3 separate regions of the Homo sapiens genome follow, and regions 1 and 2 are each linked to region 3. The links come from fine-mapping of genetic effects on gene expression. A gene starts in region 3. Each other region holds a variant in brackets. All regions are shown on one strand. Distances are between the middles of the regions. Region 1 overlaps BORCS8-MEF2B (BORCS8-MEF2B readthrough). Region 2 overlaps BORCS8-MEF2B (BORCS8-MEF2B readthrough). Region 3 holds the start of BORCS8 (BLOC-1 related complex subunit 8).

Evidence for each region.
Region 1: its variant is fine-mapped to the expression of BORCS8 in whole blood (TOPMed, PIP 0.96).
Region 2: its variant is fine-mapped to the expression of BORCS8 in whole blood (TOPMed, PIP above 0.99).

Annotation. Positions count from the first base shown.
Region 1 is chr19:19,151,108-19,153,862 of GRCh38, reverse strand. The region is part of intron 5 of BORCS8-MEF2B (BORCS8-MEF2B readthrough); the gene reads left to right. All of the region lies in intron 1 of MEF2B (myocyte enhancer factor 2B), which reads left to right. Among named protein-coding and RNA genes, the nearest start is that of TMEM161A, 14 kb to the right of the region's middle. RefSeq lists an enhancer at 2,097-2,156. The variant C/G (reference allele first, on the strand shown) is at 1,217.
Region 2 is chr19:19,161,158-19,163,912 of GRCh38, reverse strand. All of the region lies in intron 5 of BORCS8-MEF2B (BORCS8-MEF2B readthrough), which reads left to right. All of the region lies in intron 1 of MEF2B (myocyte enhancer factor 2B), which reads left to right. Among named protein-coding and RNA genes, the nearest start is that of MEF2B, 7.7 kb to the left of the region's middle. RefSeq lists an enhancer at 2,540-2,755. The variant G/A (reference allele first, on the strand shown) is at 1,183.
Region 3 is chr19:19,191,033-19,193,769 of GRCh38, reverse strand. It overlaps BORCS8 (BLOC-1 related complex subunit 8), which reads left to right and starts at 1,618. Exons shown (of 6, transcript NM_001145784.2): 1 at 1,618-1,689. The coding sequence starts at 1,653. It overlaps BORCS8-MEF2B (BORCS8-MEF2B readthrough), which reads left to right and starts at 1,618. Exons shown (of 12, transcript NR_027308.2): 1 at 1,618-1,689. It overlaps RFXANK (regulatory factor X associated ankyrin containing protein), which reads right to left and starts at 1,512. Exons shown (of 10, transcript NM_003721.4): 1 at 1,216-1,512; 2 at 670-810. RefSeq lists an enhancer at 646-735.

The DNA of each region.
Region 1 (2,755 bases), 40 kb after region 3:
GGGAGGATTACTGGAGCCTGGGAGGTCAAGGCTGCAATGAGCTGAGATCTCACCACCGCACTCCAGCCTGGGCAACAGAGCAAGACTGTCTCAAAAAAATAAATATGGCCAGGCGTGGTGGCTCACGCCTGTAATCTCAGCACTTTAGGAGGCCAAGGCGGGCAGATCACTTGAGGCCAGGAGTTCAAGACCAGCCTGGCCAACATGGTGAAACCCCGTCTCTACTAAAAATACAAAAATTAGCGAGGTGTGGTGGTGCATGCCCGTAATCGCAGCTACTTGGGAGGCTGAAACGGGAGAATCACTTGAACCCGGGAGGCAGAGGTTGCAGTGAGCCAAGATCATGCCACTGTACTCCAGCCTGGGCGACAGAGTGAGACTCTGTCTCAAAATAATGATAATAATAATAAATTAAATTAAAAGAAGGAAACCCAAAAGAAGGAGTCCTAGAATGGCCCAACCTCTGTGGCCTCATCCCCACCCTCCCGCTGTTTCTTGTCCCTCCTCAGGGCCCTGGCACCTGCTCTTCCTTCTGCCTGGAACTCACTTTCTATCTCAGCTCTCAGGGTCTCAGTGCAGAGAGAGACTTCCCAGTTCTCCCCCATCACATGACCTCTGCCCTAGCCATGGTGTCTGTGTCTAAAATGGGGACAGACAGAGTGAGAAGGGGCTTGAGTCAGGTCTTCCAGGCTTAAGAGACTCAGGCCTAAGCCCCAGCCCTGCTGCTGCTCTCGTGGGACCCTGGGCATCAGGGGCATTTCCGGAGTCATCTTGGCCCTGGGACCTCCGGACCAAGGCCCCCGTCCACCCCCCAGGGACCCATCAGGGTGGGGGCAACATATCCCAGCCGTGGGAACAGGCCCGATTCCGGCTGGGGATTAAAATTAGCCCTGGAGGTTAAATTTAGCAAGTCAAGCCGGAGCTGAGGGTCTGGGACTGACAGCTTGGGCTCTACATAGTTGTGGGGGCTCAGAGACCCAGCCCAGAGAGGGCAGAGGGTGTGCCTGGGGTCACACAGCATGCCATATCTGCCAGCCGAGGTATCTAACACTTCTGGGCCCTGGGATAATGGAGGGCCTTGCCCAGACCGCTTGGGCAGGGGTCTGGGAAGCCCTGAGAACACTCCCAGAGAACAATCTGGATTTCTTTCTTTCTGTTTTTGAGACGGAGTCTCGCTCTGTTGCCCAGCCTGTCAAAATCTCGGGATCTCGGCTCA[C/G]TGCAACCTCCGCCTCCCAGGTTCAAGGGATTCTCCTGCCTCAGCATCCTGAGTAGCTGGGTCTACAGGTGCCCACCACTATGCCTGGCTAATTTTTGTATTTTTAGTAGAGACAGGGTTTTGCCATGTTGGCCAGGCTGGTCTCGAACGCCTGACCTCGTGATCCACCCACCTCAGCCTCCCAAAATACTGGGATTACAGGCATGAGCTACCACGCCAAGCCAGATTTCTTTTTCTTTTTCTTTTTCTTTTTCTTTTTTTTTTTTGAGACAGAGTCTTGCTCTATCACCCAGGCTGGAGTGCAGTGACACACCTGCCTCAGCCTCCCAAGTGGCTGGGACTACAGGTGTGCGCCACGACAGCTGGTTAATTTTTGCATTTTTAATAGAGATGGGGTGGGTAGGATGCGGTGGTAATCCCAACACTTTGGGAGGCCAAGATGGGTGGATCATGAGGTCGGGAGTTTGAGACCAGCCTGACCAACATGGTGAAACCTCGTCTCTACTAAAAATACAAAAATTAGCTGGGCATAGTGGAGGGCACCTGTAATCTCAGCTACTTGGGAGGCTGAGGCAGGAGAATCACTTGAACCTGGGAGGCGGAGGTTTTAGTGAGCCGAGATCGCGCCATTGCCCTCCAGCCTGGGCAACAAGAGTGAAAACTCGTCTCAAAAAAAAAAAAAAAAAAATAGAGATGGGGTTTTAGCATGTTGGCCAGGCTGGTCTCGAACTCCTGATCTCAAGTGATCTGCCTGCCTCGGCCTCCCAAAGTGCTGGGATTACAGGCGTGAGCCACCGTGACCGGCCTGATCTGGATTTCTTGATAACTTGTTGCCAAGCCTGGTGGTGGGTGCTCAGCATTTCCTACCAGCCCATTCACAGAAGAGCAAACTGAGGCCTGGGGAAAGGGTCTTCTGTGCTGAGGGCTGCCCTGAGGGTCAGAGGGAAGGCCAGGCCTGAGCGTAGGTCCGCGTGACCCTGGAGAGGCCCCTTGCCTGAAGCCTCAGTCACCTGTGACATGGTAGAGGCTGGGAGGTGGAGTGTGGTCACACAGTTGGCGGAGCGGGGACGTCCCCTGTGGTGTCAGGGGACGTCTGTACAGAGGGCGGCGGCTGCAGGACAGGCCACATGATTCGATTGTTCCCAGGAACCTCGAGTGGGGGTCTCTGGGGAAGGCCTGGACCCCAGCATAGTCCAGCAGTCTCCTCCTTCTGGGACCCCTACCAGGGCGATCTCACATCTCCTTGAGTGGGGTACAGGATTTCTTCCAAGTCACCAAGTGGATGCCAGGCCCACACCCTGGCCCAAGGACTCTGAGCTGGAGGCCTTTCCAGAGTGTGCCTGCATCCTCCTGCTAGAGCAGGAGGCGTTTCTATTATTCTGTTTTCTTTTTCCTTTAAAGACTGGGTCTCTGTTGCCCACGCTGGAGTGCAGTGGCAAGATCATAGTTCACTGCAGCCTCAACCTCCCCAGCTCAAGTGATCATCCTACTTCAGCCACCGGAGTACCTGGGACTATAGACGTGTGCCACCATGCCTGG
Region 2 (2,755 bases), 30 kb after region 3:
CAGATTGCTTGAGCTCAAGAGTTCAAGACCAGCTTGGGCAACCTAGTGAGACCCTGTCTCTACAAAAAATAAGATGTCAAAAAATCAAAAAATTAGCCATGTGGAGGGGCAGGCGCCTGCAGCCCTAGCTACTCGGGAGGCTGAGGCAAGAGATTGGCTTGAACCTGGGAGGCGGAGGTTGCAGTAGGCCCAGATTGTGCCATTACACTCCAGTCTAGGTGACAGACCAAGGCCCCATCTCAAAAAAAGAAAAAAGAAAAACAGAAAACTGAGCAAGTTGGCAGTGTTTCTTCTGTCTGTGAAGCAGTTGTTTGGTCGTTGATTCAAGGAAGGGTGATTGAGGGCCTTCTATGTACTAGGCGCTGGGAAGCCGGCAGGGCGAGATGCTCATCAAAGAAAGCAATAAAGAAACACACACCAAAAAGTCTGATAGGGCTGAGGTGCTGCAGAAAGAGTTGAATTTGGCCGGGCGTGGTGGCTTACACCTGTAATCCCAGCACTATGGAAGACCGAGGCAGCAGGATCACTTGAGACCAGGAGTTTGAGACCAGCCTGGGCAACACAGGGAGACCCCGGCTCTAAAAAAATACAAAAATTAGCTAGGTGTGGCGCCGTGCTACTCCCAGCTACTCCAGAGGCTGAGGTGGGATGATCGCTTGAGTCCGGGAGGGCCAGGCTGCAGTGAGTCGAGACCACACCACTGCACTCCAGCCCGGGTGACAGAATGAGACCCTGCCTGAAAAAATTAAAATAAATATTAAAAAAGATTGATGCCTCCAGAAAGAGCGTTTTCTGCAGGTCTTTAGAGGACATGGAGACACTCCTGGACTTGGGCAAACCTAGAAGGGTGTCCCGGGGTTGGACACAGTCCGGGCAAAGGGAGAGTGATGGGCAAGTAGGGAATCAGTTTGGGGCTGGTGTTGCAGATGCCCCCAAAGGGGCAGAAGGTGGGCTGGGAGTCTGCTGGTAGATGACACCTTTTCAAGTGAGGGGAGAGGTGGGTGGGTACATGGGGAGTTTGTGGGGACCCCTGCAAACACAGGAAACCGAGGCTCAGAAAGTATCACGCAGTGGGCAAGTGGCGGGTTTAGGATTTGAATCCTGGACTGACTGGCCTACAGCCCCGGCCCTGGCCTCTCTGTGCATGGCCAAAATGGGATCCTGGAGTGAAGTAGAGGGGGC[G/A]TCCCACAGAGGGTCCCACTCACCGTGGACTCCTGCCCCTCGAACAGGAGCTGTCCCTCCCAGGAGCAGGCCCAGGGAGAGGTGGGAAGGAGGGTCTGAGGGCTCCCCACTGGGCCTCACTTTCCCCATGGGTGCCAGAGGGACCTATGGAAAAAAGGACCCCCATGGGGCCTTCTCCAGCTGGAACATTCTAAGAATCCTGGATTCAAACACTACCCATTCAAATCTAGCCTCAGATGCCCCCAGCCTGCATTTCACCCCTGGTGGGTGGAGAGCACCCGGCCTTGGGAAGGCAGCCAGGCCTGTGTGGTGGCTCACACCCGTAATCCCAGCACTTAGGGAGGCTGAGGCAGGAGGATAACTTGAGGCCGGAAGTTCAAGACCAGCCAGTGTGATAAAATGAAGCCCCTTCTCTACAAAAATAAAAAAAATTAGCCTGGCATAGTCTGGTTAAAAATTAGGTGTGCGCTTGTAGCCCCAGCTGCTGGGAAATCTGAGGTGGGAGGAATGCTTAAGCCCAGGAATTGGAGGCTGCAGTGAGCTATGATGGCACCACTGCACTCCAGCTTGGGCAACAGAGCGAGACCCCATCTCAAAAAAAAATAATAATAATTAAAAAGAGGAAACCCAGCCAGGTATGGTGGCCTGTAATCCCAGCACTTTGGGAGGCCGAAGTAGGCAGATCACATGAGGCCAGGAGTTCAAGACCAGCCTGGCCAACATGGTGAAACCCTGTCTGTACTAAAAATACAAACATTAGCTGGGTGTGGTAGCGCATGGCTGTAATCCCAGCTACTGGGGAGGCTGAGGCAGGAGAATCGCTTGAACCCAGGAGGCAGGGGTTGCAGGGAGCAGAGAACACGCCACTGCACTCCAGCCTGGGTGACAAAGTGAGACTCTGTCTCACAAAAAAAAAAAACAAAAAAGAAGAAAGCTAGAGTGTGGGTGGTATCACTGCAGGGATGGGGGGGCCCTACCTATGTAATGGGGGACCAGCATGGATTGGGGGGAGTCTGCATATGTTTGGAAGAGTCTGCATGCGTCTGGCGGGGGTCTCCACATTGTTCAGGGGAAAGGGGTCTGTGTGTATTTGCGGGACGGCCATGTGTTTAGGGAGATCTGTATGTGTCTGTGCATTTGGGGGATTGGCATGTGTTGGGGCATCTGGGTATGTCTGAGTGTTTTTGGGGTCTGTCTATGCAGAGGGAATAGGATGTGTTTTGGGGATGTGTGTGTTTGGAGAGCTGTGTGGGTTGGGGGGTTTGGCGTATCGTGAACTGCATGTATTTTGGGGACTTTCGCAGGAGGAATACTTGTGTATTTGGGGGATCTGTTGTTTCGGGCATCTGTGGATTTTCTGCGGCTCTGTTTGGGGGTCTCCGTGTGTGGGGAATATTTCTACCTCCCATTATGCCCATACAAGGATGGAGTGACCCCCAACCCCATCCGCCCCTGTCCCTCAGCACTCCACCAGGGACTTTTTGGGGCCCGCAATCTGAGCTGGGTTCCCCCAGGATGGAGAGGTGACCCCAAGGCCTTCTGAGAGGCATCAGGACCCATCGACCACAAATCC
Region 3 (2,737 bases):
ACCATTCCCCACCACCAAAGCACCTACAATGTGCAATGTTTAAGAGCCTGGGCTCTGGCAGGGCACAGTGGCTCACGGCTGTAATCCCAGCACTTTGGGAGGCCGAGGAGGGTGGATCATGAGGTCAGGAGTTCGAGACCAGGCTGGCCACCATGGTGAAACCCCATCTGTACTAAAAATACAAAAATTAGCCAAGCGCGGTGGCGGGCGCCTGTGATCCCAGCTACTCGGGAGGCTGAGGCAGAATTGCTTGAACTCGGGAGGTGGAGGTTGCGGTGAGCAGAGATCGCACCACTGCACTGTAGCTGGGGCGACAGAGCAAGACTCTGTCTCAAAAAAAAAAAAAAAAAAAAAAAAGAAAGGAAAAAAAAGCCGGGGCTCTGGGGTCAGCTGTCTGGGTTCGAATCCCTCAATTTATAGGCCGTGAGAACTTGGGCACGTGACTTAACCTTTGAGCCTCAGTTTCCTCCACGACAAAATGTGGAAATGAGACCTACAACGAATTATGTCTGTACATAGCTTATCGGGGGATCTGCTAAGCGTGGAGCTCAATAAATATTCGCTATGGTTGTTGGGAGGGGCTCCCCATAATGAGTGACGGCTCAACAAAGGTGCGATTGGTCCCAGTCCCACCCGAGCCTCCTAAATCGATCCAGGAGGTCCACTCACCTCCCCACGAGCCTCCTCTGTCCCCCCGCGCCGAAAGCCCAGTTCTCTCAAAACTTGGGGGCCCAAGTCACAAACTTTTCTCTTCCAATGGATATAGCAGGAGGCAAACTGGAGACCGGACCCTCAGCGATCTGGCTTCCTCTGCCGGGACAGAAAGCAACTTGATACTCGACCGCTACCCCCACCCCAGAGCTCCCCCACTGCGCTTGCGCACCCCCGCCCCCCAAAAGTGAGGAAGGGCCCGGGCAGTAAGTGCTGCCTCTGGCCCTTTAAGACTTAGGGGAGGGCGTGGGTTCCGCTGGGGTCCTGGGAGGGCAGTTGCGCCTGCGCCTTCTTTTCCCCTCCTCACCGACTCGGAGGGAATGGGCGGGGCCTAAAGGGCTCTGAGAATTTCACTACGCCTGCGCCCGCTCACCTTTACCCTGCCCACAGATTTTTCCAGAGGGAGCCAATTGGCTCCGGCTTCGGGTAGATGGGCGGGGCTATCTCAAGAAGAAGAAGTAGGGGAAGTACGCGGGGCGTCTGGAACTTAAAGGGGCAGCGTACCTTGGCCGTCCCGTTCCACAACAAGGTCCCTTCTGCGGTCTCAAAGGCTTATAAGCAAGGGCGGGGGCAGAGGGCTAAAGAAGGGAGTTTTTGCGGCCCGAGTGGGTAATGCGTGGAGGACTCCCCCAACTCGTCTCTCAAGGAAAAGGGGGTTCAGAAAGGGAGAGAGTTCTTCCCCCTCTCCTGCCTGGGTGTCGCTCCACCAGCCTCCTGGCCGTCGCGCCCCCTCCTCACTGCGCCACCCCCGGGTGTGCCTCCTTCCCTGCGTCTCACACAGCCCCTTTCTTGTCCGCAAAGACTGAGGAGCGGGGAGGGCGGGCCCTCTGACACCGGAACAGGAGCCGTGCGGCGTCCGGTTTCAGCAGGGAAGGCTTAGGCGGGCGTCCCAACCTCCGGGCTTCCGGTGCCGTTTCCCGGTTCGCTCGGCCGCGGTCGCTATGGAGGAGCCGGAGATGCAGCTCAAGGGGAAGAAAGGTGGTGCGGGCCTGCGGGCGGGACAGAGGGGGCCGGTAACTTGTGGAGGGGCGGCCTGACAAAGGCCGGGCGCGGAGGGACCGTGCGAGGAGCAGTGATTGAACTGCCGTCCAATCCCAGCTCTGCCGCTGACTAGTTTTGAAACCTGTAGAAAGGCTCCGTGTCTGCTTTAATTACCGGTCCCCCCAGGATTGTTTCAAGAATTCAGTAGCTGAGGCTGGGAGTGGTGGCTTTGTAATCCCAGCACTTTGGGAGGCCTAGGCGGGAGGATCGCTTGAGCCCGAGACCAGCCTAGGTGACATAGTGAGATCTCGTCTCTAAAAAAATACAAAAATTAGCCGGGCGTGGTGGCGCACGCCTGTGGTCCCAGCTACTTGGGCGGCTAAGGTGGGAGGATTGCTTGAGCCCGGGAGGTCAAGGCTGCACTGCAGTGGGCTACGGTCGTGCCACTGCACCCCCAGCCTGGGTGACAAGTGAGACCCTGTCTAAAAAAAAAAAACTCAACAACCTGATATTTGTAATGCATTGGAAGAATCCCCGGGGCGTAGTAATCGCTGTGCGTCTTGTTTCCTTTTTTTTTTTTTTTTTTGAGACAAGGTATCACACTGTCGCCCAGGCTGGGGTGCGGTGGCGCGATCATGGCTCACTGTAGCCTCGATCTCTCTGGCGCGGGCGATCCTCTTGCCTCAGCTTCTCCAGTAGCTGGGACTACAAGTGCACACCACCACATCAGGCTAATTCTTTAATTTTTTTTTTTTTTGACGGAGTCTCGCTCTGTCACCCAGGCTGGAGTGCCGTGGGGGGATCTCAGCTCACTGCAACCTCAGCCCCCTGAGTAGCTAGGATTACAGGCACACACCCCCATGCCCAGCTAATTTTTTTGTATTTTTAGTAGAGACGGGGTTTCACCTTGTTGCTCAGGCTAGTCTCGAACTCCTGACCTCGAGTGATCCACCCACCTTGGCCTCCCAAAGTGCTGGGATTACAGGTGTGAACCACTGCACCCAGCTAATCCCCTATACTTTAAATCACCCTAGATTACTCACAT